4 separate regions of the Homo sapiens genome follow, and all the other regions are reported to be linked to region 3. The links are microRNA targets in miRTarBase. Many come from high-throughput screens and were not tested one by one. Region 3 holds a microRNA gene; each other region holds the end of a gene's coding sequence.

Region 1 (7,120 bases), not on the chromosome of region 3:
CCTCCTGAGTAGCTGGGATTACAGGCATGCGCCACCACGCCTGGCTAATTTTGTATTTTTAGTAGAGACGGGGTTTCTCCATGTCGTTCAGGCTGGTCTTGAACTCCTGACCTCAGGTGATCTGCCCACCTGGGCTTCCCAAAGTGCTGGGATTACAGGTGTGAGTCACCGCGCCCAGCCAAAGAGAAATAATTTAAAGACAAAACTCATAATCAAAAGGGGAGTAAAACAAAGATTTGGAAAATTCTCAGCCTGTCTATATTGTAACAAATGAGAAAGCATGTTTGGGAGAGAACAGCAAGGATGTAGATGAGATCAGTATGGATTAGCCCCGTGCCAGTCATCAAGACAATGGAAGGACCCTGAAGGCATTCGGAGATCCTTGGGGCTGCTGCTCCCACCACAAACCTGAAGTGCCAGGGCTTTGAGGGCAGACAGTTTCATAAGAGGGCCCAGGGCACCCATGGGGCTTCAGGGTGTACTGCTGAGTGCCATCTGAAGTCTCTGCTCCCTACATTCTGGTGCACCCTCCATGGCAGCTCCAGGTGTGGCTCCACTGGGCCTAGGTATGCCATAGAGGCCACCCCTCTGAAGGGCATAGGTGGTAAATCTTGGTGGCATCCACAGGGTGCCAATGCTGCAGGCATCCAGAGTGTAGGAGCTGTAGAGGCCTGGCTGCCTCCACCTAGACTTCAAAGGATGCCCTGGAGAGCCTCGGGACCGAGGCAGAGGACTGCCACAGGGGTGGGGCCACCACAGAGAGCCCCCACTAGGGCACTGCCCAGTGGAGCTGTCATTGTGGTGGGGCCACTACAGAGAGACCCCACTGAGGCAATGCCTGCTTGGAGCTGTGGGGACAGGGTCACCCCCAAGAGCCCCGTAGAGCCACAAGCATACAACTCCAGCCTGGGAGAGCTGGAGGCACCTGTAGGAACTCCAACCCATGAGAGCTGCAGTGTGGGCTGTGCGCAACAAAGCTGTGGTGGCGGGGACACCCAGAGCCTTGGGGGCCCAACCGCCAACCCAGTGTGTCCAGAAGGCAGGACATCAAGTCCAAGATTATTCTCAAGCCTTATTAAGGCTTAACATTGTTTGCCCCACTGGGTTAGGACCTGTCAGTAACACTCCTTTCTTCCTGTTGTTCCCTTTTGGAATGGGAATGTCTATTCTATGCATGTCCTACCATCGTATTGTGGAAGCACCTAACTTGTTTGATTTCACAGGCTCACATGTGGAGGAGAACTTGTCTCAGGATGAATCGTATCTTGAAACTCATCCATATCTGATTTGGATGATGATATTCAGACCAGACTCTGGACTTAGACTTCTGAATTGACACTGGGATGAGCTAAGACTTTTGGGGCTATTAGGATGAAATCAGTGTATTTTGCATGTGAGAAGGACATAAATTTTAGGGAGCCAGGAAGTATCTGTGTCCCTCCAAAGTTCATTATGTTGAAACCTCATTCCCAATGCAATAGTATTCAGAGGTGAGACCTTAAGGAGGTGATTAGGTCATGAAGGCACAGCCCTCATGAATGAGACTTGTGCCCTTATAATAGAGCCCTATGAGCTTATTCACCCCTTCTGCCATGTCATGACACACCAAGAAGGTGTCATCTATGAGGAAAAGGGCCCTCACCAGACACTGAATCTGCCAGTGCCTTGATCTTGGATTTCTGAGCCTCTAGAACTGTGAGCAATAGATGTATATTGTTTACAAATTACCCAGTCTCAGGTATTTATTTTATCATAGCAGCCTGAACAAATTAAGACAGGCTAGTAAGAAAAGGTAGAGTTTAAGGAAAGGTAACTTTGATTTTAGACAATTTTTAAAGGTAAGACTAGAACTTAGAGATAACTAATTGGGAATCATACAGAGCAGCAGGCACGGTGGAAACACAGAGGAGAGGGGTACAGAGAGAGCAGAGGAGATGCCTCAGGGGACAGCCAAGGTCTCCAGGGCTAGGAGGGAGGAAGAGTTAGCAAGGTTAATGGAAGAGCTGCGGTCTTGAGTGATGGTGGTTATGGAAACAGCATCATTTCTCCATTCATTAGTGCAAAGTGCTCTATTTTCTCAGTATAGATTTCAGACTAAATCTAAAGAACCTATATTCAAAGACATCCATAAAAAAGACTACACAGTACACTGTCAAGTAAGAACGACAAAGGGTTCACTGGGTTTTTAATAGTCAAGGCTGGTACTAGACTGCAGACCCCAGGGAATGCTTTTCATGGCTGTATTAATGTATCAAGTTCTAAGTCAACAAATTGGCAGTTGCAATGACTTTTTTAACCAGAAATAATTATTAATGGGAAAAGCAAGTTTCCAACATCCCTATCCTTCCCACATTATGACTTCCATTGACAGTGATTTTTAAATATATAATTACTCAGAAAATGGATTAAAACCAGATTATTCACTGTCCGACACCAAATTTTTTCAGTGATGTTAAAAATTCTCTTTTTGGATAGTAATTTCCATCACTTGGAAAATAAAAGCCAAATACAGTATGATCAATCAAGAGTGTTGCTGGTCGCACTGAAAACTGTGAATCCAGGGGAGATACATGCCTTCTGGCTGGAGTTCCTCCCCAGAAACAAGGGGCAAGACCAGTACTAACAGCAGGAAAATGAAATTTCAACCCACAAGGCCCTCTGTGGTCAGGTGCCACCCAGTCCCAAGTAGTCAGTCTCTAAATGCTGAGACCTCTGAGAAGGCAGGAACTTTCTGGAACTATTGTGTTCATTTTAAACTTACAGATTCTGCTGGCTTGCATTTTATTTTATACTAACTTGCCTACTATCCCTTTAAACTGCCTGTTCTCTCCCTCATCTCTCTTTAAACGAAAAATAATATCCTATAAAACAGAGCAGACAGACAGCTGTGCACTACTGCGTAATCCATCTTTCTAAAATCCTCACACTTGACACAGAAGCCAACTCTCATTTTAGATGCTTGGAAATAGAATCAAGAGCAAATTCTAGCATTCTGGGTGGCTAGGTTGAAAGTACACATGGCAGTTCTCAGAAGGGTGATGGGGCCAGCGTCAAGAAATGCTCTGTTCTTACCGATCACACCCTTCATCCAGATCTTGACAATCACACAAACAAGTAGCCACGTGGTTCTTTTCCCCATTCCGATCTATGTACTCGCAGCAGCACAGGGGCTCCAATTCAGGTTCTTCGGTTTTCTTTTTCTTCACAGGCTTCATACTGCCCTTCTGTGTCATGATTTGCACCTGTCACCATGAGGCGTAAGAAGCCCTCAGAAGGTAAAGGTGGAAAGAACACAACTTACATCTCGTAAATAGGTCCACGCCTCTCTCTCTCTGCTTAACCTCCAACGCCTGAGCAATCAAAAATGAGAAGAGAGAGGGGGAGGGGGTCCCGTTTTCATCAGGCTTCTGTGGCTCCGCCTGGCCACACAGGGGGCTCCAGGGTTCTTGGAGGTCTGAGCTGCCTTCACCGCCCCTTCCCAGCCTGGGCAGGCGCCGTCTGGGCACCAGCCGTTCCTATGGCGACAGCCGACCACGCGTCCGGGACAGCCGGGGCGCGGGCGGTTGCGCTCACCTGCGGGTGCAGGCTGGGAGGGCCGAGCGGTCTCCGCTCCAAGCCTGGGCGCTGGTGGGAACTCAGCCTCGGGGCTATAGGGAAAGGCGAAGCATATGCCCGCTAGCAGCGGCTGACACACCAGGCTCCCTGGCAGTGCTCAGGGGTCGCGGTCCAGCCCAACTGGTCGGGCCCCTTGCAGGGTGCGCCTCTCCCGCCCCCGCCAATCCGGAGGACGTGGGCGGGCCTCGCGCACCACCCCGCCAGGAGAATGACCTTGGAAGGGAAGTTACCTGCCCTCTGGCCGGAGGTGCAACTGCAGCCAAAGAGGCGGAGGGGAGATGGGTCGGCTTCCCCGGAGGCACAGACGCGTCTCCCGATCTCTGCTACGCGGAGCCCCGGGCGTGACGGCAGGAGTCTCCGGGACCCGGGCTCCGCTCGGCCGCTCCCTCGCCGCAGCCGCCCACCTGTGACCACAGCCCGCCGCGGCCCGGGCGGCGCGCCCGCCTCCCCGCGCCGTCCCAACCGCCCCTCCGCCCGCCCGGCTCGGTGCGCCAGGTCCACGCGCGCTTCCGGGTGCCCCGCCCCCGGCGCCGGGGTTCCCCGCCTGTCCGCACGTGCGCCGCCCGCCTCCCCGCGGTGCCCGCGGGCGAGGCTCCTCCTCCTGGCCCGCGGCCCTGGCGCCGGGAAGGGGAAAATCGGCTCCCGAGAGCGCGTCCAGGAGGCAGGGGCAGGAGGTGGGTCCCGCACCTCCGGCCTGCCCCGCCACGCCACGCCCCGCCCCGCCCCAGAGGCGGCAGCCGGGCGCCGCCGGTGCCTGCGGGCGGCGCGCCGGTGGGACAGCCTCCGGAGCCCCGGGGTGCGGACGAGGTGCGGAGACGGAAATACGGGAAACCCGGGAACCCGGAGGATTTCCGAACTACGTGAGACCGTGGAGCCGCCAGCCTTCATTCAGACTCCGGCAACAGGCGGTGAGGGAGCTTTCCACCGCAAAATGTTATCCAAGTACCTCCCCCAGTTTCGCTGACCTTCTCTTAAAGGCCCATCACTGCTGCCGGATCTGTTCATTTAGCAACCTGTTCGTTTCATGATTTCTGGCTAGCAGCCTTTACATTGGACCAGCAGGCCTCGCTAGTACTTTTGTTCCAGTCGTCTGTGTATTTGAGATGAAACTGCCCTGAGATGAGAGTCCTTTTTGGGTTTTATTATTGCACAAAATTTCTTTAAAGAGTGTGGGCCCATGTACACGTTTCACTACCGCAGGCTTTCTAGTTTTGTTTTTAAGTAGAAAAAGAAGAAAAACTACAACTCAGAAATTTTCAATTTTATTAATATTCAATTTACGTAACAGGCTCAAATTTTATTAATTGAATTCTGCATCCATACGAATTTAGTCTTAATTTATAAAGCAACTTACTTCGATACTCTTCCTTGAAGTATGTTATAAAATACAACGTTTAAATAAACATCACAAAAATATTGTTTGTCGATCATTTTTGTGACTTTAACAGAGAAATCTTCAAGTTTATAATCCACTCATTCTTGCTTACAGCCAGACACTACATAAATCCTTACCAAAACAAAACAAACCCAGGTAGGTTCACTGTTACCCCTAGGTATGCTTCGTTGGAATTCACCCAGAGAAACCCATTTTCCCTCTAACGGAGTCAATACTTTCATTCTCTACAGGCATCTCAAAAATGACTATAATAATGCCATGTGGCTTTGGGGACTCTGGAGAAAAATGAAACATTTAATTAAAGGCAATAGTTGTTCAAACAGTAAGAATGTATACACAGTTTATATATAGATAGATAGATGGATATGTATTTTTTCCCCAGAGAAAGGGCTCAAGAGACAAAACAGTAAAACACTTCAACTTTCCCTAACTCTTGAAAAAATATCTGATTTTAAGTCAGTTTACAAAGTTCTTATTTTAATGAGCCACTTGTATGGAGACACATATGCATAAAAACTTTTTATGAAAGAGCCAAAGCTTGCATCTGAGTTAAAACTTGATAGTCAGTACACTTGTACTGGGACATACGTGCCCCTGAAGTTTTTATTAAAGAGCTAAAATCTATGTCTGGCTTATAACTTACCAATCAAAACAAGTCACACACATACATAAAGAAGGAAGCCATACATGGTTACTGAAAATACACAAATTATTTTCAACCAGATGTGTCACTTCCACCATGAAAGACTGCTAAGCTGAAGCCAATCTTAGTTCAAGTATGCATTTGATCTGTCACTAAATGCCCAGATTTTAACATAACCTTCTGGTTTTTAAAACTCAGAGGATGGTTCTTCCTTTTGACTGTTGGTATTCTAAGTGAGGAGGCAAGATAATCCCACCTCTGATAGTTACCTTAAGAAAAAACAACTATTTCTTTCATAAAGATACAGCATGGCAGAAGACCCTTTCTGATAATCATCATCAACATGCAGATTCAAAAAGTTTGACTATTAAATTTGCATGCTAAATAAATGAAGACATTATAATCTTTACAGTACACAAACCTGGAAATGTTATATGCCTGAAAACAGAACCTTTAAAATCAGTAATGACATAGAGGTTTCTTCTTATATTGTCCTGTTTATCCTCTTGGTCTTATCTCAGTTACAAAAGCGACCTATTGGACATGTACGGATTCTGTGCTAACAAAGCATCAGACTTCACTGTAGAAATGAGACCATACCACTCAATTCAGGGTGTGTCATTTTCTTTTTGTATCAGAGAAATTCAGTTCTATAATATATTTCATGGTTCACTGAAGAAATTCACAGCTTAAAAATATCTATAAGAAGTGAAAGGATGGATTATTAAGGCCAGCAGAAACTAATTATCAAATAAATGTTACTGAAAGAAATGTTCATATTAGAAATCTCAATAATGAAAAAACATAGAAATGTTCTATGCCAAAATCCTTCATTCGTCTGGTTTTCTTCCAGGTATTTTCTTTAAGTTCCAAGTATCTCTGCGGTTTTAGTCCTTCAGATCACTAGCTTTCAACAGCCATGCCAGTCTTATTCTTATTTAGTAGATCAAACGTTTTCTGAAGCATAATGAGTGAGCTCTTCAGCTGTAAACAAAGTTAATTTTCAAAATCAGATTAATTTTTCTAATCAGATTTGAAAATTTCTGTTTTTTATGCCCAAAATTTACAGTGACACTTAATATAGTTTTGTTTATACTGATGCCCAAATAAAACGTTAAATACAAAATACCTGATTCTTTGGGGTATCTATCAGTATGATTGCTACAGAGTTCTTCCCATTTGCTGGAGTATTGTACTTCTTCCTACTGCTACATAGTCTACCTCCCAATAGGTCCATTAATCAAATTAAGCGTAGTGACAGACTCGTTTTCCTAAAAGATTTCTGAAGTTGCAGTGGTCTCCTCACTATCCCCTAAACAACTCAAGTTTGCTTCAGTGCCTTTGCATGCTCTCATCCTCATGTTCTTCACCTAAAACTTACTCATATTCACACTCTTCATGTAGTTTTCCCCAGTCATTCTGCCTATAAACTCCCAAAGCATTATCCTTACTACTTAACACTTTGA
Region 2 (7,120 bases), not on the chromosome of region 3:
CCCAAAGTGCTGGGATTATGCCTTTTCTTTAAAATTCTTGGAAATAGCTCGTTTCACTGTGTATTTTTGTCTGCTCTTGGTACACAAGTAAAATACTACAGAAATTAATTTCTTTCAGCATTGAAGTGTTTGCTTTCCTCTTTATTTCAACTAAGTTGTAATAATTTCTGGTATCCTGGTAATTGATAACTAAGATAATATCTACAGAGTGGATGCCATTAATTCTCTTAGCAGTCACGTGCAGAAGGGAAGGGTTTGGGCCAACCTAGGGTTGTGCTGTCTCTGTCGACTAGTCTAGGAAAGCACCCAGGTGTCAGGTATTTTGGTCCCTTCCACCACACCTCAGCAAATGTAAAACAAGCCCACAGTTAATGGCCCTGTGGCAACCCTGCCCTGGAGAATCTCAATAAGAGCATTTGAAATGAGGAAAGCAAGATTTCACATTTAAATATCTTGCTTTGGCACACAGTTGCTTTTATTGATTAATAAGCAAATAATTATAGGGGAACTACTATTCATCGAATACACTTATTAAAATATTATAGCACCATAAACTATATTGGTATAAAAATGTTTTATTCTTTCTTTTGTAGCAAGCCCAAGATGTAGCAAGCAGTCCACCTGAGAGCTCCTTCCAGAAACTAGCACCCAGTGAATATAGGTATACTCTATTGAGGGATCGAGATGAGCTTTAAAAACTTGAAAAACAGTTTGTAAGCCTTTCAACAGCAGCATCAACCTACGTGGTGGAAATAGTAAACCTATATTTTCATAATTCTATGTGTATTTTTATTTTGAATAAACAGAAAGAAATTTTGGGTTTTTAATTTTTTTCTCCCCGACTCAAAATGCATTGTCATTTAATATAGTAGCCTCTTAAAAAAAAAAAACCTGCTAGGATTTAAAAATAAAAATCAGAGGCCTATCTCCACTTTAAATCTGTCCTGTAAAAGTTTTATAAATCAAATGAAAGGTGACATTGCCAGAAACTTACCATTAACTTGCACTACTAGGGTAGGGAGGACTTAGGGATGTTTCCTGTGTCGTATGTGCTTTTCTTTCTTTCATATGATCAATTCTGTTGGTATTTTCAGTATCTCATTTCTCAAAGCTAAAGAGATATACATTCTGGATACTTGGGAGGGGAATAAATTAAAGTTTTCACACTGTGTACTGTGTTTTACTGATTGGTTGGATATTGCTTATGAAAATTCCATAGTGGTATTTTTTTGGATTCTTAATGTGTAACTTAAACATACTTTGAAGTGGAGGAGAGTCATAAGACAGAACATTTGGCAGGAATTGTCCTTATGAAACAAGAAAAAGAAAATGAAAAGTATTATTAAGCTTCTGTGTTTGTCTAAAAATGTGGCATATGGATGGCATTTAAAACTTTGAATGAATTATACCTAAATCTGGGACAGGGAGGTGACAGTGGAACAGGCTACCAATCAGAACTAGATGACTTTTAAGGCTCCTCCTATTATGAGACTTCAATTTCCAAAGAGAAGAACTAGCAGAGAAATTGTATTTCAGTAATTTTAAGCTCCTTCTGTCTTGTAGAGTCTTGTTATAGTTGTATAAATCAAAAACACAGAATAAGGAACATATTTAACTTTTTTTCATTATAAAATGGTTAGAGGACCCTACCCCCTCTAGATTCCCTGATTTCCCCAGGCCTGCAGCATACAGTAAGATGGGTCCCTGTGCCAGGCCTCAATACTGCCAGGGAATAAAACCAGAGGGAGAGGACCCTCAGTGTCATATCAGGAAGCCCAGTGCCAGAGGACAGACAGGTTCAAAACTGGCTTTTCCTCTGGGCCTGGGTTGGTGCTATAGGCCAAGGGTCATTTTATACTTGGGTATAAATCAATCCCAGTTTGGGAAAAGATTATTTTTAAGCTTAAAAGGCTGACATGTGCCATTATATGTAGTATGTAATATATGTAACATCTTCCAATTCTTTTAAAATAAAATTAATATTTATAATGGATATTTAATGATTGTTATTTTTAAAAACCAGCTTATAATTCCTCGTTATGCATGATTTATCCAAAGTTTCCATAGTTTTATTCAAAATAATAAATGTTAATAAGGTGATAAGGGGTATATTTAATGTATTGTATCAAATTGTGAATAAGAAAGTAGGATGGAGCTTTCTAGAGGTTGGGCCTTAGTTCTGTTATCCTCATTGCTTTTAACCAATAAGTTAAATGAAGTTAGAGTTATGGTCTTCAGGTTAGATTATGGACCAGATCTGTGAGGGTCAGCATGGAAATTCACATTCAACAAGGTAGCACACAGGACCAAGAGCAGCACATGCAATCAACTGGAATAATATAGTAATCCTGTAACTGGGTTTGAAAAAATAATCAACAAAAGATACAATTCAAGGGTTAGGTTGCAGAGAGCTGGCTTGAGAGTAGTTATTATGAAAAAGGCCTCAAGGAGTACGTGTTCAGTATGCTCTAAGATGATAAAGTGGCTGTTAAAAAGGGAGTTGATTTGAGGAAGTATTACTTAGCATTCATGCATATTGGGCTTAGGCTCTAGCCCTGCCACTATCATTGTCTTCTCTGGACTGTGAAGTCACTGAGGACAAGGAAACTAAATTTAATGTCTGTATCACTAGTGCCTAGAATTTCTGGACACTTAGTAGTCACCATCAGGCGTTTATTTAATGAATGAGAAGCAAAGTGACCTTGGTTACTTTTTTACCCTGAGGGGCTCAGCACTCATTAGGACTTGGTGCCTAATTTTATAAAAAGTCACTAAGCTCAAGTGCTTGGATGAAAGGACAGCGTGGATAAAAAGGTTTTTAAAACATGGATGTTAAGGCTGTTTTGCTTGGAGAAGACTTGGGACTGGGACAGTCTTTAGATATTATTTGAAATGCTGGCACTGTCTATCTGGATCCCAGGGCTTGAACTAGGATTTGAGGAAGTCACAGGGAAGCAGATTTCAGTCTGACATTTATTCAGTGCAAGTTTTTTGGTGCTGTAGTATATGATGAAAGATGTAAAGCTGAATAAAGCATTATTTCTGCCCTAGAGTTGTTCACAGCCTAGTCAGGCATATGGATATGTAAACAATGACTGTAACGTGTTATAGATGTAAAGACAAAATAAAGGTTAAAGAGGGCATAAAGGAGCACTCAATTGCAGAGATTTGAGGACATTATTTTTATTTTGAGCTTTAAAAAGATGAATAGGTGTTCTCAGGAGGTAGGGATCTGGCTGAGAGGGAATAATCTGAGCAAAGGTATGAAACAGCCTAATGCATTAGAGAAAAAAGTTCTTTTAGTAAGGCATTTGGGGTTGGGGAAGCTAGAAAAAGAAATGGGAGCTGGTCACACAGGGCCTTGTGTGCCAGACTAAGGGGTTTGTAGTATATATTGTAGGCAGAAGAGATCCATCAACAGATTGCAAGCAAGGAAGTATGTTCACTTTAAAGTTTGAGAAAGAATAGTGTGGAAGCACGTCTCAAATTTAGACTTGTTCCCCCTCTGAACCGTGAATCAGACCATTTCAGGTAGAAGTCTTCCCCGGTTTATCTGATCTACTCGGGGCCTCAGGCTTCTCAGCTGGGAAGAGAGGATGCAAGACCAGACTGAAGAACACGGTTGAGTCCCCAGAACCAAAAGGGGGCCTTTCTGCTTCTTAGCCAGCTACCTCTTCGAGTTTTTCAAATTGTGAGGGGGACCATAAAAGGATGGAAACTTTTAGATGACATTCTACAAATTATTTTTTTCTTTAAATTAAAAGAACCTAGCCAATAAGATAGAGAATGGGCATCTAAGGCATCTCAGAGCTCTCTGATGAAGCCAGGTTGTCAAAGATCATTTGCAAAAGAAGGGAAAACTGGCATGACAAAAGCTACAGAGAGGAGAGTGAAATATAGAAGTGTTTGAAATGTTCAAGCTCACAATAAGCTTAAATTTATAGAAAATGCTAAGGTTGTCAAGAAGGCTTTTTTTTTTTTCTTTTTTAAACCTGAGGGCAAAAAGGAATGGATAAAGTAGTGTAATGGATTGACAATCAGGAAGAACAGAATAACTCAGTTTTTTTTCTCCTACAAGGAGATATGGCTGGACCAAAATAAAATGACATGAAACTGCAAAAATGAAAAGTAAAAAAAAAAAAATTGTTGTCACCTTAAATGATTTCAAGGTTGTTAGACCCACACTTCTGTATCCTAGAGAGCTGCTGGAGGTTGCAAATGCTTTCTATTAACAACTGTTGGGAATTTTTGAGAAACCATGGAGAATGTAAGGTGACAGAAGACTGGAAATGAGCAAACGTACTGCAGTTTTCAAATCATTAGCTAATAGCTTTAGCTATTTTTCTAAAATAAAACCTCATGAACCAAACAAATGTTAGTACTCTGTATTTGGGGGAAAGATTTAAATAGCTGTAAAGAACAAAACAGTTATCTGTTTTTAAACCCATTATTTGAAGACCCTGAAGACAGTAAGTTGTTTCAGGACTCAAGTTTTATGCTGATAATAACTTTATGTTCATTAAACCAGGTTGGATAGGACCTCTGCTTAGCAACTGTTTTTTAGCTGTGTTTGAATTTTTGTATGTATTTCCAAGTAATAAAATTATATTTATAAAATATTTCTATATTGGAGACTTTTTACTAATTCACTTTGTTATAAATAACATCATATTGTAAACCCTTTACTCAGAATCTAGATGACCACAGTTGCTAGATTTTTCAGATTTAAAGTTATTTCCCAGGTAATTTAATTGTACTGATCAGAATGGGAAGCTATATGAATCCATGTGATCACTCAAACCCAGCCTTTCATTGAAGCAAGCATCCAAGTTCCCTCTTGAAGAACACACTGGGGAAAGGCTGGCCTGCCCTTAAACAATAGGTTTTGGAGTCACCAGAAGAGGAACAGTGCAGCTTACAAATTGCTTCTCTAAAAGACCCCTTCCCCCAACCCTGCTTAGTAAATTCCTCCTATTCATCCTTAGTGCCTAATAACACTTGTCACTCCCTGTGATCCCACAGTCCTTTATGGATTTTAGAGTACCCAGTCTAATTCAGAGTTAGAAGTGTACGTATCTCTCTTCCTTATCACTGTGTGAATGCCCTGAAAGCACGAACTCCTCTATCTTTGTAATCCCAGCACTTGGTGACACTGAAAGTACTCAGGAAATCTCTGATGGAAAAAAAAAAAAAGGCCAAATTAAATAATAAGTATGTGAGCAAATGAATAAAGAACAAGAAAGCATCGCCGTAAGTGGAATGAGCTCTACTGGTTAATCTGCAAATCTCAATTATCTGATGATTCTGTCCATCACAAATCGTGTTTAGGTGAATCTAGTCACCTTTAATCCTGTATCTGAATCCGGCTTTGGGGTCCTAAGAGTTTTTGTCTAGAATAGATTAAAATCTTACAGTGCGCACCAACCCAGAGATACATAACTATCAGAATGACATCTGAATACCCTCTTGGGTAATGCAGAGTCCTGCAGAGGTGCTGGAAAATTTCTGAACTCCACATTTGCTGTGAGGTAAACCTGACCCCTAGCTTGGCCTCACGGAGCAACAGACTTGAGTTGACAAAATATCCCTGTTGTGGTTTTCAAAACACCATTCATCTGCCATTCAGCAAGCATTATCTACTGTTTCCAGGCTACAGATCTAACAGTAAGGAGACTGTACCTACCATCAAGGAGCTGAAAGTTGAGTGAAGGAGCAAAATAGATGTGTAAATAATGGAATGTTGTAGGTGCTAGGATGTGAGTTAGTCGCAGAGAACATGGAGGTAGGTGTGTACAGCCTTGGGAATTGGGAGTCTTCCTAGAGGAAGTGCTTTCTTGCTCAGAATAGAAAGAGCTATACTTTCCTAAGCACATCAGGCTCTTCTCCAGGAGAATTGTTATTAATAAAGACTGTCATTATTCTATTATCTTACTGTAATAAAAGTATTGTTAGGTATTGCTGACCTGTTTTTTTCTCACAGTTCTAGTCCTCTCAGGTAATAACAACATGTCCCATGTGTTTTACTTATTGCCATGGCTACCAGGGAAGAAACCACATGCCTACTGTCCTGGTGCCCTGTATAAACTTGCCTACATAGGATTAGATCAATATTAGAATCCTGATGCCTTGTTTTCTTGCCCTAGCTACTGCCTAGGAAGGGGAATAGAACATGGCATTCCTGGCTATGCACACAGCAAGGATTATAGAACAGGTCATCAATTCTGAGTGATCAATTCTGACTTCAGAATGAGCACGGCTTTCTGATTTAAAACACTAAGTGTCCATTTCAGAAATTTTCCAGGATTCAAAGGTAAATTTCCTGGTCTGTGGCTTCTGGAATCCAGCTTTTACGCCTTAAATTTAGCCTTTTGCCCAAGCTCAGTGTTCTGGAACATTTTCTATTGTCTTGTTTTTCACAATTACTGGTAGTAATTTAACTTGCATGTATACGTTCCCACTAACGTTGGGATTTTGTTTTTTATCTGAGCCTAGAAATGATCAATTCTTTTAAAATATAGATGCTCTTTTTTTTAATAATGCCACACTTATTTTCATTGCCCTTATTACTAAGGTGACCATGTAATTGTATTCATCCAAATCAGGACATTGAGATGAAAAGGGAGCATTAGTAATTTCACCAGGACAACAGATGTAAATCAGGACTGTCCCAGACAAACTGGGATGTATGATCACCCTGCTCCTAACCAGATCTTACATATTTTCATGTTTGGATATCATTCTTAATAAAGATGAAAAAGATGCACTTTCTACCAGGCATCTGTCATCTTTGAACCGTCTTAATAAAGCCTTTTGAAAAAATCATTTTAAGGATTCTTAGTGTATTTCTCAAGTCTCCACTCATTTTAGGTGTCTCCCTAACACTATTCTTGTAGGTACATGATACCTTTTTTAAATTAATGTGCATTTCCTTTAAACTTTGGGAAAAAATAGTAACAATTCTAACAGTAACAGCAACTAACATTTGCACAGTTAGCAGAAGCCAGGCACTATTCTAGGCACTGAATATGAATTTAGTCTTTTAATCCTCATAACCACCCTGTGAGATAGATAGCAAGGTGTCAAGGTAGGAAGAAGAGTTAAGGACATCCTGAATTGTTGA
Region 3 (7,109 bases):
CTTGAAATCAGAGCTCAGCAGTAATACAGAAATATCTTAAAAAGCTGCTCCCATTATAATGCAATTGAGAATATTCCATTGAATATTGTTTATATGTTGCTTTTTATCATAACTTCTGTTATTATTACGAGCTCAACATATGTTGCTAAGCCCACAGGAAGTAGCCACGTCTTTTCTGTTCTAGGGCTCCATGGAAGTTCTTTATTTTGGCTTCTGTAAATAATAAAAAGGAGTGAGCCAAGACATCACTCTACCTTTGTTTAGTGAAGTTAGTTTTCATTGAGATACAGCCACAAGTTGCCCTATAACCAAGAAAACAGGACAGTGGCTATTATAAGAAACCTGCTCTTTCAGAAAGCTCTAGTAATACACAAAATGCTTAATACATGGTATAGGGGAGCTCTTTTAAAATACTGTTTTATTTTGGAAAGTGAATCTATGATATTGACAATTAAAATTTGTTTTCAATCTCTATGCGTAAAGCTCCAGGAAAGGCTTCTGCATAATTTTTTTCTTGCTTTTTTAAAAATTTGATCTTTTCACTGGTAACCCTTAAGGGTAGGTGTGATCCCATTTTCCAGATGAGACAAGAAAATCAAGTGATTTATTCAGTTACAAAACTCTAGGCTGGGTGCTGTGGCTCACACCTGTAATCCCAGCACTTTGGGAGGCCAAGGCAGGCGGATCACGAGGTCAGGAGTTGGAGACCAGCCTGACCAACATGGTGAAACCCTGTCTTTACTAAAAATACAAAAATTAGCTGGGCGTGGTGGCGTGCGTTTGTAATCCCAGCTACTCAGGAGGCTGAGGCAGGAGAATCACTTGAACCCGGGAGGCGGAGGTTGCAGTGAGCCAAGATCACACCATTGCACTCCAGCCTGGGCGACAGAGCAAGACTCGGTCTAAAAAAAAAAAAAAAAAAAGACCTCTTTAGTAGTGGACACAATTCAAATTTTGATGTGCCTGACTCCAAAGCCCATGCTTTTCCATCTCACTGTACTCTATTACTTCTCCTTAGTAAAGCTTCCAAGTCACTTTTTGGGGGATATTAAGCTTTTTGGGGTTTGAGCTTCCTTCCAACATATGGGAAAACCTGCCCTAATTGACACCTCAGTATCCTTACTGGAAAACACTCTAAGCAAATTCTCATTTCATTCTCAGTAAACCAGGTGTGTCCTACGTAGGAGAAGGCGACTTGGTCCTGTGATGTTCTAACACTAGTTTTCAAATTGTATTAATCCTTAAAACCCTCTGTTCAAATGAAATCTTGCAGGAAAGTCCAACATATAAATAGAACTGCTGTTAGGAGAACACAAGGATGAGCAGTTTACTGAGAGAACCCATCAACTGGAGCTACATTGACAGAGCACCTACATTGATTGAACTCATTGATTGAGCTCCATTGATATGTGCCTCCTCATCACTGTTCTGCTGCATTCACATCATCTCATTTAATCCTCTACTCCACCGTTACTATTCCTGACTTAAGAGCCAGTAGACTGGTTAAGAAGGTTACTCCATGGGTAACTGAGAAGCCTACCAGTTGCTTAAATACATACAGGTTTATTTTTTTCATGGAACTAGAAGTCCAGAGATAGCCAGGCCAAGGTTGATGCAACTGCTCAGTGAAATCAGGCTTTTTCTCTTCCTTTTCCATCACCCTTAAAATGAGGCTTTTCTTTTCATGGATACTGGGTATGCAAATTAGTAGTGTTTGCTACAACAAGATAACAACGTGATCTGAAAAACATCCGGATCTAGGAGTTCTGTAAAGACCTCGCTTTAGTTCCCTGTCACTAAGGTAACTTCCTTGGGCCCCCTGAACTCTGCAGGATCCTTTCATCTGTGTCTGCTTGGTCTTGGAATTCTATTAACTTATCACAAGTGGGCTGTTATCCTTTCTTCTCCCCTGCTCTCTTATTGACCTTTGTTCTGGGTTGCAATTCACTTTCATGATCCCAGGAATAAGCACACATAAGAAATGGAAAATGATCTGTTTCTATTTCTCTTCAGAAACCACTATTATTTTAGAACTTTTCATGTACGATAGCTTATTTAAATGTAAGATTCAGAGATTTTTTTGAGACGGAGTCTTGCTCTGTCACCCAGGCTGGAGTGCAGTGGTGTGATCTCGGATCCTGCAACCTCCACCTCCCGGGTTCAAGCAATCCTCCCGCCTCAGCCTCCCAAGTAGCTGGGATTACAGGCATGCACCACCACACCCGGCTAATTTTTGTATTTTTAATAGAGACAGGGTTTCACCATGTTGGCCAGGCTGGTCTTGAACTCCTGACCTCAGGTGATCTGCCCACCTGGCCTGTCAAAGTGCTGGGATTACAGGCATGAGCCACCGTACCTGGTCAGATGTTTTAACATTTAAACAATGACAATAATAGCAAACAGTTACACAGCACCTACTATAAGCCAAGAGCTGCTATGTGTATATTACAATGCTGTTCCCAGAGCATTATGTATATTAATTTGTTTGATCCTCCAGTAGCCCTATTATCCCCATTTTACAGATGAAGAATGGAAGTACAGGTGATTGACTTCCTGAAAGGCACATGCCAGTAAGGAGTTGGACAGAAATTAGAATCCAAGCAATCTGACTCCAGACTTTTACGCACTATACTGTTGCCTCTAAGCAATTTTAAAATAAACATTTTATAGGTTACAACATGTTGAAATATTAATACAAGTTATTTTAAATGTAGAGAAATAACTGCTAATCTTTAAATTTTACCAACTGCCTAAATATGTTTATTTAAAATTGCATCAATGCTGTGATTTCTGACTGAATATGCTAAGGCAAATTGTTTTATCCTTGTATTTGTAATAAACAGATATGAGATACACATACATGCCTGACATGACAGTGGAGCAGAGTTAATTTTATATCCTTTTAGCAAATACATTTCTAAGGCTGTAAAACTTTTTCTACTTAAAATATTAATAATGGCAACTTAATGTTTCTTGCTATGTATTAGGTACTGTGCTGGGGTAAAGATGGAATGACTTACCTGCTATTCCTTTTATTTAGAGGTGAGTCTATTTCTTTTCCTACTGAATCTGGGTTGGCCAGTGATTTGACACGTAGAATGTGGCAGAAGTATTACGTTGGTGCAAAAGTAATTGCCAGTTTTGCCATTGAAAGTAATGGTAAAACTCGCAATTACTTTTGCACCGACCTAATAACATTCTAGGATGTCTGAGACTCTGTCATAAGAGCCTTGCAGCTTCTGTATACTGTAACATTCATTCTTGGGTCCAGCTTCCATGCTCTAAGGAAACATAAGCAACCTTGAGGAGACTCATATGAAGAGGATCCCAGGCTCCTGGCTGAGCACCCAGCTGACAGGCAGCACAAACCTGCCAGTCACTCAGGTGAGTTCTTTGGGGAGTATATTCTCCAACTCCAGCAGAGGCCAAGAGGAGCAGAATGAGCCAATACCACTGAGCTCTGCCCACATTATTGATTTGTGAGAAAACTGAATGATTGTGGTTGCTTTAAGCACAAAGTTTGGGGGTAGTTTTTTATGCAGCAATAGATGGACAGAACAAGTGCTAAGGCCTTTACACGTTATCTTTATTCCTCACAATGATCTTATGAAGAAGCTATTATCCTTACCTCAAGATGACAAAGCTGAGGCTCAGTGAGTTGGCATAATAATCCAGGTCTGTCAACTCCAGCTTGATAGATATTTCTCCTGATAAATCTTACTTCACTTTATGATCCATCTTATTCACAGCTGTTGAGTCAGGCACGACTAAGGTTAAATCTTAGTTCTGCCCTTATTGGCTATATGACCTTGGATAAATAGAAGGTAAGTTTGTTACTTCACAGGACTGTGAAGATTCCAAGGATACATATAAAGAAATTGGCAGGTGATAGGCACTCAACAATGGGCAAATATTATTGCTTTGAAAATTCCTATAATGCAGAAGCAGCTGGTGGTAAAAGGCTCGCAGAATAGCATTTGATGGTGTGAATACCATCACGGTGTGGGATGCACTCATTTAGGAGCAGGCACGTGCAAAAATGTCAGAATGGCCTGACTTCTAATAGGAAAAAACCTCATGACATCACATGATGGTAAACCATGTATGCATACATGGCCTATGTTTACCTGTATGTATAACATAATATGGGTATATAATTGATTTAAGTCTAGAAAATTCCCGACTAAACAGCTATGTCTGTTACTTCATTTTAAGATTCCTTCCAGCTCTAAAATTCTGTGAATTTTACTTAGCATCCTTTGTCTACCTTGAATGTTGATTACCTTAGGAAACAAATGCAATCACAGCCAGCTATCAGCTCATGCCAATAACTATATACAATTTGCAATTTGTATGCTATTCCTGAAGAAGAGTTCAGGTATTCAGAGAAAAGGCCTTTCTCTCTACTGCCTGCTTCTACTAATTTTTAAACAGGGACCTTCCTGAGTAAAGCAGGTCCTATCAAGTTGCTGTCATCTTCTCCCCTGGAAATTTGGGGGAAAAGGTGTGAGGGAATGGTGGAGCAGGTGAAAGGAGGGCCGCTGTAAACTGCTGTGAACATTGCTGGGTCTGTTGTAGGTGCTCAATAAACACTTAGAGAATTCAATGAACTTGTTCTTCCTTTATCCCATTTAGCCTGTCTTACCCACTTATTTCCAGATGAACAGTGGATGACGGTGGTAAGCAGTAGTGAGAATTAAAACCTCAACAGCTTATTGAAAGACCCCTTCATCCTGTGCTTTTATATTCTTAGTGCTAGTGTATGACATGAGCCAGTAACAGGGCTTCTGGCCCATAGATCCCTTCTGATAACAGCTCCTTTTGTTTCCATTCTCTTCCCTACTAATATTGGTGCTCTGACTGACAAGACAAAGGACTGTATCCTGTTGAGAAGATCTAAAATCTGAGTAACTCCCACTAAAATCTGTATCCTGTAAAGAAATAACACACTTTCTAAAAGTGCTCTTGGGACATTTAAAAATTGAAAGACAATAACCGCCCCCCCAACACATATACTCTTAACATTCTGTTTTTGATGCCATAAAATGAAAAGAATCAGAAAACAAAACTAAGACTCACACCAAAAAATTATCATTATCTAGAAAAAAAAGCAAAGAAAAAAACTTCTTTTATACAACTTTTGGATTAAAGAAGGTATCAAAACTGAAACTTAAGAACATTTAGAAAATAACAGTAATGACATTAATGCAGCCAAATGATTCGCCTTAAGCAGTGCTCACACTTAAGTCCATGTCTTCATCTCTTCTTAAGAATTAAGAAGTAAAAATAAATTACATGCTAACTCGAGTTAGAAAAAAACAAAATAAACCAAGGAAAGCAAAATGTGGAAAACTTATTAAAGTGGAAATCAACTAATTAGAAAGAACAAAATTACAGAATAGAGACATCCAAGCGGTTTGGGGAAAATAAAAAAATACACAATTAAAAAAGTAGGTAAACTGTTAGCTACCTTTATCAAGAAAATAAGGGAGAAACTTTGGGAGGCCGAGGCAGGCGGATCACGAGGTTAGGAGATCGAGACCATCCTGGCTAATACGGTGAAACCCCGTCTCTACTAAAAATACAAAAAAATTAGCCGGGCCTGGTGGCGGGCGCCTGTAGTCCCAGCTACTTACGACGTTGATGCAGGAGAATGGCATGAATCTGGAAGGCAGAGCTTGCAGTGAGCAGAGATCGTGCCACTGTACTCCAGCCTGGGCGACAGAGCGACACTCCGTCTCAAAAAAAAAAAAAAAAAAAAAAAAAAAAAAAGAAAATAAGGGAGAAAGCATAATACAAACTAAGGGGCAACATCCACATGCATAGAAGACGAAGAGTTAACTTTCCTCAACTAGGCAAATAAATTTGAAAACTTGGGATTAAATGGATGGTTCCTGATCCAGATAGGATATAAAAACTACATGGATTAATTACCTAGATGATACCAACAAAGTTGTCAAAAAGCTGCTTGCCAAACATCCATGAAACCCAGATAATTTCACTGAAATTTTAAGAAACAGAAAATTTCAATGCTATTTAAACTGTTCTAGGGCATTGTAAAAGGAGGGAAGTTTCCAAATCCACAAGCATAAAATACTACACTTCTCAAAGTGAACACGTGTATGCATGCACACACAAACTATAGACTACTGATTAATACAAGTGCAAATATCCTAAATAAAATATGAAGTGCAGTCTAGCAATATATTAAAAAAATACACATGGCCAAAAAGAATTTATTTAAAGAATGTAATGATAGTGCAAAATTACAAAATATATTAGTAAAATTCATCTTAAAGGATCAAAGGAAAAAAAATCATATGATCATCTCCACAGATGTCGAAAAGGCATGTGATAAAATTAAACATGCAGTCTTTAAAAAGTTTTAAGACTAGGGATTAGTTGATACTCCTTAATATGATTAAATCTATCTCAACTCAATTCATTATAGCCAGTTATTGAACATTATTTTAGAAGTACTAGACAATGCAATTAAGATACAAAGAGGAATGCAAACTGTAACAATGGTTACATTATCAGTGTTTGCTGATGACAGGACTGTGTAGTTGGCAAACACAAACTAATTAAGTGAAATACTATTAAAAACAACAAAAAAATGGAATCAGGTAGCCAGGTAGAAAATTAACATAAATAATTGGCCTTTACATGCACTAAAATTAGGCAAAATTATAAACAGGATTTCATTAATAAAGGCAATAAAATGTAAAAATTAAAAAAAATAAACTCTTAAAAATGTATGAGATCTCTGTAAAGTGTAAAATTCATCTGAAGGAAACAAAAAAAGATGAAGGGGCATGATTTTTAGATAGTGCACCATGGTTTAGATAAAAAGCTTTAACATGATAATGATGTCAAATTCCCCTAAATTAATCTATAAAATTAAAACTGTCCAAAAAAAAAAAAAGTACCCATGGATGTTTTGTGGAACTCAACAAATTGATTGTCATTCAAATGGAAATATAAATAAGAATATTTGAAACACTTAAAAATCACAGTTATTAAAACAATAAAGGATTGGTACAAAAAGAGAAAAGCAGATCAACAGAAGAAAATACAGTGTAGAAACATACCCAAATAATATGGAAATG
Region 4 (7,120 bases), not on the chromosome of region 3:
GGCAGCAGCTTCAGCACGGCCTCCAGGAGCTGCGGGATGCCCAGGCCTGGAGGGCAGAGGAGGCAGCACTCAGTCTCCAGCCCGCCCGCCCGCCTGCCTGTCTGCACCCTTCACACTGCAAGCATGGACTTGGGGCCACGGCAGGCCACAGAGGAGCCTCAGAGCCAGGAGCACCGCTCACCCGCCCGCCCTGCCCTGGGGGACCTGGGGCTCGCTCACCGTCTGCACGGATCTCCATGGGCCCACACTGGCAGATGGAGGAGGCCGGGAAGTTCAAGTCCGCAAGAACTAAACAGCCGGGAGGACAGCCCGTGTCGGCACCTATCCCTGCCCTCGGGGTCGGCGCCGCCCGTCCTCCCACCCAGTCATGGCGGCAGATCGTGGGTCACAAGAGGTCTCAGGTCAGCCAGTTGGGCGCCCCCACCGCCGACCGGCCGCAGTCAGATCCGCAGGGCTGGAAGCCACGCGGGGAGGTGGGGAGGGCAAGGTCCCTGCCTGGGAGGCAGAGAGGCGTCAACAGCTGCCCGCGAGGCTGTCGGGTGCTGACCAGGCCAGGGGGCCGACCCGGACCCGGCCGCCTCCCCAGGGGCCAGAGGACGCGCGGCTGCCCGCGATGCCCGGACCAGGCCCCCGGCCACCCAACCCCTGCCCCGGGACCCCAGGCCCCAGGAGAAGAAAAAGCGCCGAACCCTCGGGGGCAGCCCAGACGCGAGGGCTCTCGGGCCGTCTGGGGAGGGACTCCGGGAGAAGCTCGGGCCGGCTCCGCCCAGAGCCCCACGAGGTCTCAGTTCCCTAAAGAATGCGGGGGAGGGGGCTTCCTGCCCGGAAGCCAGGGAGGCCCGAGCAACGCCCACACCCCAGGACGCGGCCCTTCCCGGCCCGGGGGTCCCCGTGCAAGCCTCGCCCTCCTGCCTGTCCCGGGGTGCTCCCCGAGGCCCCGGCCCGCTGCGCTCACCGATCTCGTCCCCGTGCCCCATCCGCGCCAGCGCGTAGAGCAGCTCGGGGGACAGCAGTGCGGGGACACCCTTCAGCGCCACCATGGCCCGGCAGACGGGGCGGGCGGGGCCTAGGGGCGGGGCTTGGGGGCCGGGGCGGGGCCTTACGGGGAGGGCGGGGCTTGGGGGCAGAGGCGGGGGCCTTACGGGGAGGGCGGGGCTTAGGGGCAGAGGCGGGGCTTTACGGGGAGGGCGGGGCTTTATTGGAGGGCGGGGCTTTAGGGTCCCGGGCTTGGGGCTTGGGGACGGGCCGGGCCTAGGGTTCGGCGGGCTGGGGTCCGCTTGCGGCTCAAGGAAGGGCGGGGAGCCCCAGGAACTGGGGACGTGCGGGCTGAGTCGTGGCGTGGGGGCAACACCCAGCCAGCCCACGGGCTCCTCGCCAGGTCCGAGACTCGGGTGCCCTTGCGCTGTGGCCGGGGGCTCCCCAGTGTCCCTACCCGAGCCTCCCACCCCGAGCTCCCTCAGGCCGAAGGGGTTCAACCGCCGCGGCCTCCCCTCATGAGGGTCTCTGCCCTCTGACCACTTCGTGCTGCCCTTAGGCCTGGCAGAATGCCCGGAGCGCACCGGGTCCCTGGGGTCACCATGGTGGGTAGCTGGACCCAGGCCTTCAGCCCACGCTCCTGAGGGACCGGGAGCAAGGGACACGGGAGCCAGGACTTCGGACCCCCTTGGGGGGAGTCCAGGAGGGCAGCCAGGCCCAGCTTCCAGGCTCAGCTGCGAAGTGCCAGGACACCTAAGGGTCCTCCATCATCCCCCGGTGTCAGCGGCCTGCAACCCCCTGCCCAGGATGGCGGCATCCTGACCTTTGGCTGAGCTCAGGCTGGCCAGGCCCTCCCTCCGCGGAACCACCTTCTTCCACATGATTCCCAGCTGGACACCAGCTGTGGGGCTAGCACTGCGGCCCTGGCCCTCAGCCCTGAGGTGACACAAATGCTCTGAGGCCTGGCGGCTCCTAAAAAGTTCTGAAAATCAATCTGTATGTGAAAAATGACAAAGCCGCGTCAGAAAACCAGGAGGAAACAGACGTCTCCATGTTGAACTGCTTGGCCCTAGGAGCCTGTCCCCATGGGAAGTGGCCTGGGCTGCGTCGGAAAAGCCTGGTGGGGCCACCCAGGCTGGCACCCAGCAGCACCTGAACAGCTGGCCCTGGGCCGGCCACTCGGGCAGAGAGAAGACCGGGGCTGCCCAGGGCCTGCCAATGAGGGGTGGCTTTGCACCGAGGCCACCGGGTTTCAGAGCTGTACCTGGGCAGTTTCTACTCCAACTTGTAAGTGGAGAGTCACCGTTTACCCAAATATACAAGGGCAAGAGGATTTTATAGAGATGGGCAAGAAAGTTTTCAGCTTCAAAACCAAATCAGGCCGGGCGCGGTGGCTCACACCTGTGATCCCAGCACTTTGGGAGGCCGAGGCGGGCGGATCACTTGAGGTCAGGGGTTGGAGACCAGCCTGGCCAACATGGTGAAACCCCGTCTCTTCAAAATATACAAAAATTAGCCAGGCATGGTGACTGGTGCCTGTAATCCCAGCTACTTGGGAGGCTGAGGCACGAGAATTGCTTGAACCCGGGAAGCGGAGGGTGCAGTGAGCCGAGATCACTCCACTGCTCTCCAGCCTGGGTGACAGAAAGTGACTCCGTCTCAAAAAAAAAAACAAAACCAACAAAGAAAAAACACCTAATCAAACCCCAAACAATAATGGGGCCAGAGGTCAACTAGCTCAGGAGTGAGTGGAAGCCTCACTCTGAGTCTGGGGTTCCCCTGCCCCGGACAGTGGCACCCCTCCCTCCAGGCTCCCTGGGGCCAGCATGAAGACAAAGTCCATTCCCCAGCCTAAGGGTTGGGTGTCTGTCCCTGCCAAGCTCTGGAACCAGATAACTAGACGCAGCCCTCTGAGATGCGGCTTCCATGCTGGGCCCTTTCTTGGCTTCCAGCCAAGTGTGGCTGACACAGGTATGAACGTGAGGCTGCAGCCAGCCCTACGGATCTCTGAGGTTCCATTGCTTGAAATCAGATTATGGAGGCTGACCCCAGTGCACATGAAAAATTAAACGGAGTGGATTTTCTCAATGTTCAGGCTTCCTCCCTTGCATACTTGAACATTTGGTGCCTATCTATCTCTGCATATTTACTCCAGGCTCCAGGGCCAGTGGTTCATGACCCACGCAGACTCCACGTGCTCCACTCCAGTAAGTGAGCAGGTTCCAGATTCCCTACCCCAAGGGAAGAGCCTGTTATGCCCTGTTGGACCTGAATCAAACTCCCTTTGTACCTGTTTCAGTATTTGTCAAACAGTCCCAGATCCCAAGGCTTATCTGAGGCTTATCTGAAAAGAACATCTCCCGCCTGTTTTAAGGCCAACTGCATGAGAACTCCCACCTGCCCTGGCAGAAGCGAGATAAACCTGCTCCACCCTGAAGCCGGCTCTGAACTAGTGGACTCCAATCACAGCACACAGGAGGACAGACGGGGTGGGTGGGAGTGCAGAGCCAATGCCTCCGAGGCAAGCGGTCGCAGAGCATGCGTGTGTCCCCTTTGCGTGTACATGTAACCGGACACACGGGCGTGGCACCTGCAGCGTTCAGGGAACCAGAGCTCGGCAAAGATCACTGTTCTTCTTTCTTGATGCAGGTGAACCTGTCCTTGGTATTCAGCCCAAGTCCTCAGCGGTGGGGGCTCACACACTCTGCCCACCCAACCCAAGGCCATGACCACAATCTAGACCACCTACGCACACTGAGCTGCGGGGCCAAGTGGAGGAGACACCGGCAAACGCTCTCTGGCGTCTGCACTGAGCTGGGGGCAGGTGGGCTTCCCTGGGGGAAATACCTAGAACCAAGGGCATGATGACATGTCCATAGTATGAAACGTCAGGGCCACTAAAAAGAATGTTATAGGACTGTCATTTAGTGAGAAAATCAAATGGTGAAACATGCCACAACAGGCACAAACCTTCTGGACAGTATGTGCCTTAGCTTGGGCTGCTGTGATGCAGTGGCATGGTCTGGGTGGCTGATAAACACTGACTTTCCACAGTTCTGGAGGCCAAGGCTCCAGGCAGGTTCGGTGTGTGATGAGGCCCACCCTGGTTTACAGACAGCACCTTCCCACAGAGCACTCACATTGTGGGAGGGGTGAAAGAGTGCCCTCAGGGCTCTCCTAAGGGCAGTAATCCCACTGGAGGAGCTCCGCCCCCTCATAGGGCACTAATCCCACTGGAGGAGCTCCGCCCTCTCATAGGGCACTAATCCCACTCAAAGAGCTCCATCTTCTCATAGGGCAGTAATCCCACTGGAGGAGCTCCGCCCTCTCATAGGGCACTAATCTCACTGGAAGAGCTCCATCCTCTCATAGGGCACTAATCCCACTGGAAGAGCTCTGCCTTCTCTTAGGGCATTAATCCCACTGAAGGAGCTCCGCCCTCTCATAGGGCACTAATCCCACTCAAAGAGCTCCGCCCTCTCACAGGGCACTAATCCCAAAGAGCTCTGCCCCCTCATAGGGCACTAATCCCACTTGAAGAGCTCTGCCCTCATAGGGCACTAATCCCACTGGAGGAGCTCCGCCCCCTCATAGGGCACTAATCCCACTGGAGGAGCTCCACCCTCTCTCTCCTAGGACACTAAACCCACTCGAAGAGCTCTGCCCTTGTGACTAGTCATTGCCCAAAGTCCCCCCTCCTAATGCAGTCACGGTAGGGGTTAGGATTTCAACCCAGGGATTTGGGGTGGGGCTGAGTGAAATGAGCCTGACCCAAAGGGATAAATGGAGGTCCCTCCATAGAGACAGGAAGTAGAAGCGTGGGTGCCAGGAGCTGGAGGGAAGCAGAAAAGGGGTTGTTGTTTAACGGGGACAGTTTCCGTTTGGGAAAATGAAAGCTTTCTTGGATAGTCATGGCTGCACAACGAGAACGTACTTAATGCCGCTGAAATGTGCATTTGAAATGGTTCAGACCAGCCTGGGCAACACGGGGAAACCCCGTCTCTACAAAAGGTAAATTTAAACAGTCAGCTGGGTGTGGGAGTGCGCCCCTGTGGTCCCAGCTACTTGGGAGGGGGGGAGGATCACTTGAGCCCAGGAGATTCAAGCTGCAGTGAGCTGTGACTGAGCCACGCACTCCAGCCCGTCTCTAAAACACAGTGGTTAAGATGATCAAGTTGACGTCGTGTGTTCCCACAGTAGAGAAGAATGCAGTAAACTGAACAGAGAGCTCCTTATGACAGAAGTAGGAAGAAAATAGGGTGGGCTCTCGTGAGGAAAGGGCTCGACGTGAGTGGGCGTGGAAGAAAACCATAGACCATGCCTGTGCCCGTGTGCAGGGGTGTGTGGGTGCGTGCACAGAACTCTAGGAAGTCACAAGCCCAGCTGTTCACAGTGGCTACCCTGGAAGTATGATGTGAGGCAACTGACTATACAAACTTGTTTTGTTTGAATGTTGTTCCTTACAGTGAAAAAACAAAAAAGTTTAAAAAAACAACTAACATGACAGAATGCTCATTGCAGACATGACTACAAGGCGTGGTGTAATCTGAATCGCTATCACTTTAATCAGCATCTGTATGAAGGCAGCAGACAGCGTTTCCCTCAGAGCAGCCCCATTCTTCAGCGGCAGGGACACAAGGACCCGCAGGCCCCGCTTTCCGTCCGAGCACAGCATGCCCAGAGGGACCAGCGGGGGCTCCTCAGCAGAATCTTAGATTTAGAAGGTGCTCCAGTCAGGACCCTCACAGGCTGGGTGACGAAGGCTGTCATGCCGTGAGAGGTCGGGCCACGACCACGCAGCAATTGGAGAGGAACTGCACACCACGGACACTGCTCTTGAAAAGAGGATGATTTACTTGCTTCTAAAACTGACAGGCTGCACTTGTCCTCTCCAAGCAGAGGTGTGAAGCAGGGGCAGCTGGTTCTCACTGGTCTTTGAAGTTGGCCTTTCTCTTTTCCACAAACGCGGTCATCCCTTCTTTCCGGTCATCCTGGCAGGAAAAGGAACAGAAACAGAGCTGGACGCGCAGTATCCTCACAGAGCCTGATGCCAATGTCCGCCCGTCTCTCCCTGGCTCTGCCTCACTCATGCTCACAGGGGCCCAGGGGGCCGGGGAGGGGACTCAGCGGCAGGAACACCTGCCCAATCAGAGCTGGGCCTGGGCGCGGGGATTTTCACGGCCTCTCTCTACCAGTCTAGGTGACGGTCATTCAGGAGCCACTGTGTATGTCCAACAAGCTCACATCTAAAGAGCCTCAGATGCACCCATCTTGGTCACTCACCATGTCATCAACTGGATGATGGGTGGCCTGTATCAGGGGCTACTCTGTGTTGGAGTAGGACGTGAGAACTCAACTCTGCATCTGCTTTTCTTACACTGTGTGCACGTGTGTCCCCAGGTGTGCGCGCGCGCACACACACACACACACACACACACACACGCATCTGTACCCCTTCCTCAGGTGCCCAAACCACTTTTAATTTTTATTTTATAGAACAATTAAAACACCGAAGTATGACTTTCTCCCAGTGAAAGACATGAATTAAAATGGTAATCTGGCCGGGTGCAGTGGCTCACGCCTATAATCCCAGCACTGTGGGAGGCCGAGGCAGGCAGATCACTTGAGGTCAGGAGTTCAAGACCAGCCTGGCCAACATGGTGAAACTCTGTCTCTACTAAAAATACAAAAATTAGCCAGGTGTGGTGGTGGGCACCTGTAATCCCAGCTACTCGGGAGGCTGAAGCAGGAGAATCACTTGAACCCAGGAGGTGGAGGTTGCAGTGAGCTGAGATCTCACCACTGCATTCCAGCCTGGACGACCGAGCAAGACTCTGCCTCAAAGGGAAGAAAATTAAAATTATGATGGTAATTAGAGGAATTACTTTAAGTTACTGGCAGAAATCTTATAAAATATTGCTCTAAAGCTTCAGCTTATCTTATTAGAATACATTTGAGCCTATTCCAAATAATTGGAATGATCTAAAAAAACATGGGTAAAATGAGTTACATTTTTTTTTTCAGACAGAGTCTCACTCTGTCTCCCAGGCTGGAGTGCAGTGGCGTGATCTCGGCTCACTGTAATCTCCGCCTCTGGGTTCAAGCGATTCTCCTGCCTCAACTTCCAGAGTAGCTGGGATTACAG

Evidence for each region. Region 3 holds the annotated microRNA hsa-miR-548a-3p (CAAAACUGGCAAUUACUUUUGC, at 3,123-3,144, opposite strand). A microRNA usually pairs through its seed, bases 2 to 8, with sites in the 3' UTR of a target mRNA and lowers its output. Matches are read on the target gene's strand: a 7mer-m8 pairs with bases 2 to 8, a 7mer-A1 pairs with bases 2 to 7 and ends in A, and an 8mer does both.
Region 1: the mRNA of GRAMD1C is a reported target of hsa-miR-548a-3p. Seed matches in the 3' UTR shown: 7mer-A1 at 5,843-5,849 and 7mer-A1 at 5,562-5,568.
Region 2: miRTarBase lists ERP44 as a target of hsa-miR-548a-3p. Seed matches in the 3' UTR shown: 7mer-A1 at 952-958, 7mer-A1 at 2,066-2,072 and 7mer-m8 at 4,058-4,064.
Region 4: miRTarBase lists ECHS1 as a target of hsa-miR-548a-3p. Seed matches in the 3' UTR shown: 8mer at 5,839-5,846.

What each region holds. Positions count from the first base shown.
Region 1 is chr3:113,944,916-113,952,035 of GRCh38, reverse strand. GRAMD1C (GRAM domain containing 1C) reads right to left here. Exons shown (of 18, transcript NM_017577.5): 18 at 4,862-6,638. The coding sequence ends at 6,558. ZDHHC23 (zDHHC palmitoyltransferase 23) reads right to left here and starts at 4,023. Exons shown (of 5, transcript NM_001320466.2): 1 at 3,846-4,023; 2 at 3,073-3,350. The coding sequence starts at 3,233. RefSeq lists silencers at 3,441-3,540, 3,891-4,390 and an enhancer at 4,105-4,605.
Region 2 is chr9:99,976,187-99,983,306 of GRCh38, reverse strand. It overlaps ERP44 (endoplasmic reticulum protein 44), which reads left to right. Exons shown (of 12, transcript NM_015051.3): 12 at 594-4,122. The coding sequence ends at 695. Among named protein-coding and RNA genes, the nearest start is that of STX17, 73 kb to the right of the region's middle.
Region 3 is chr8:104,481,262-104,488,370 of GRCh38, forward strand. It overlaps MIR548A3 (microRNA 548a-3), which reads right to left and starts at 3,204; the gene lies at 3,108-3,204. LOC105375691 (a long non-coding RNA gene) reads left to right here. Exons shown (of 3, transcript XR_928507.3): 3 at 2,988-3,026. RefSeq lists a silencer at 1,326-1,526.
Region 4 is chr10:133,356,968-133,364,087 of GRCh38, forward strand. It overlaps ECHS1 (enoyl-CoA hydratase, short chain 1), which reads right to left. Exons shown (of 8, transcript NM_004092.4): 8 at 5,518-5,966. The coding sequence ends at 5,901. FUOM (fucose mutarotase) reads right to left here and starts at 1,052. Exons shown (of 6, transcript NM_001098483.3): 1 at 956-1,052; 2 at 220-288; 3 at 1-46. The coding sequence starts at 1,040. RefSeq lists an enhancer at 281-380 and silencers at 531-1,150, 1,201-1,280, 2,313-2,475.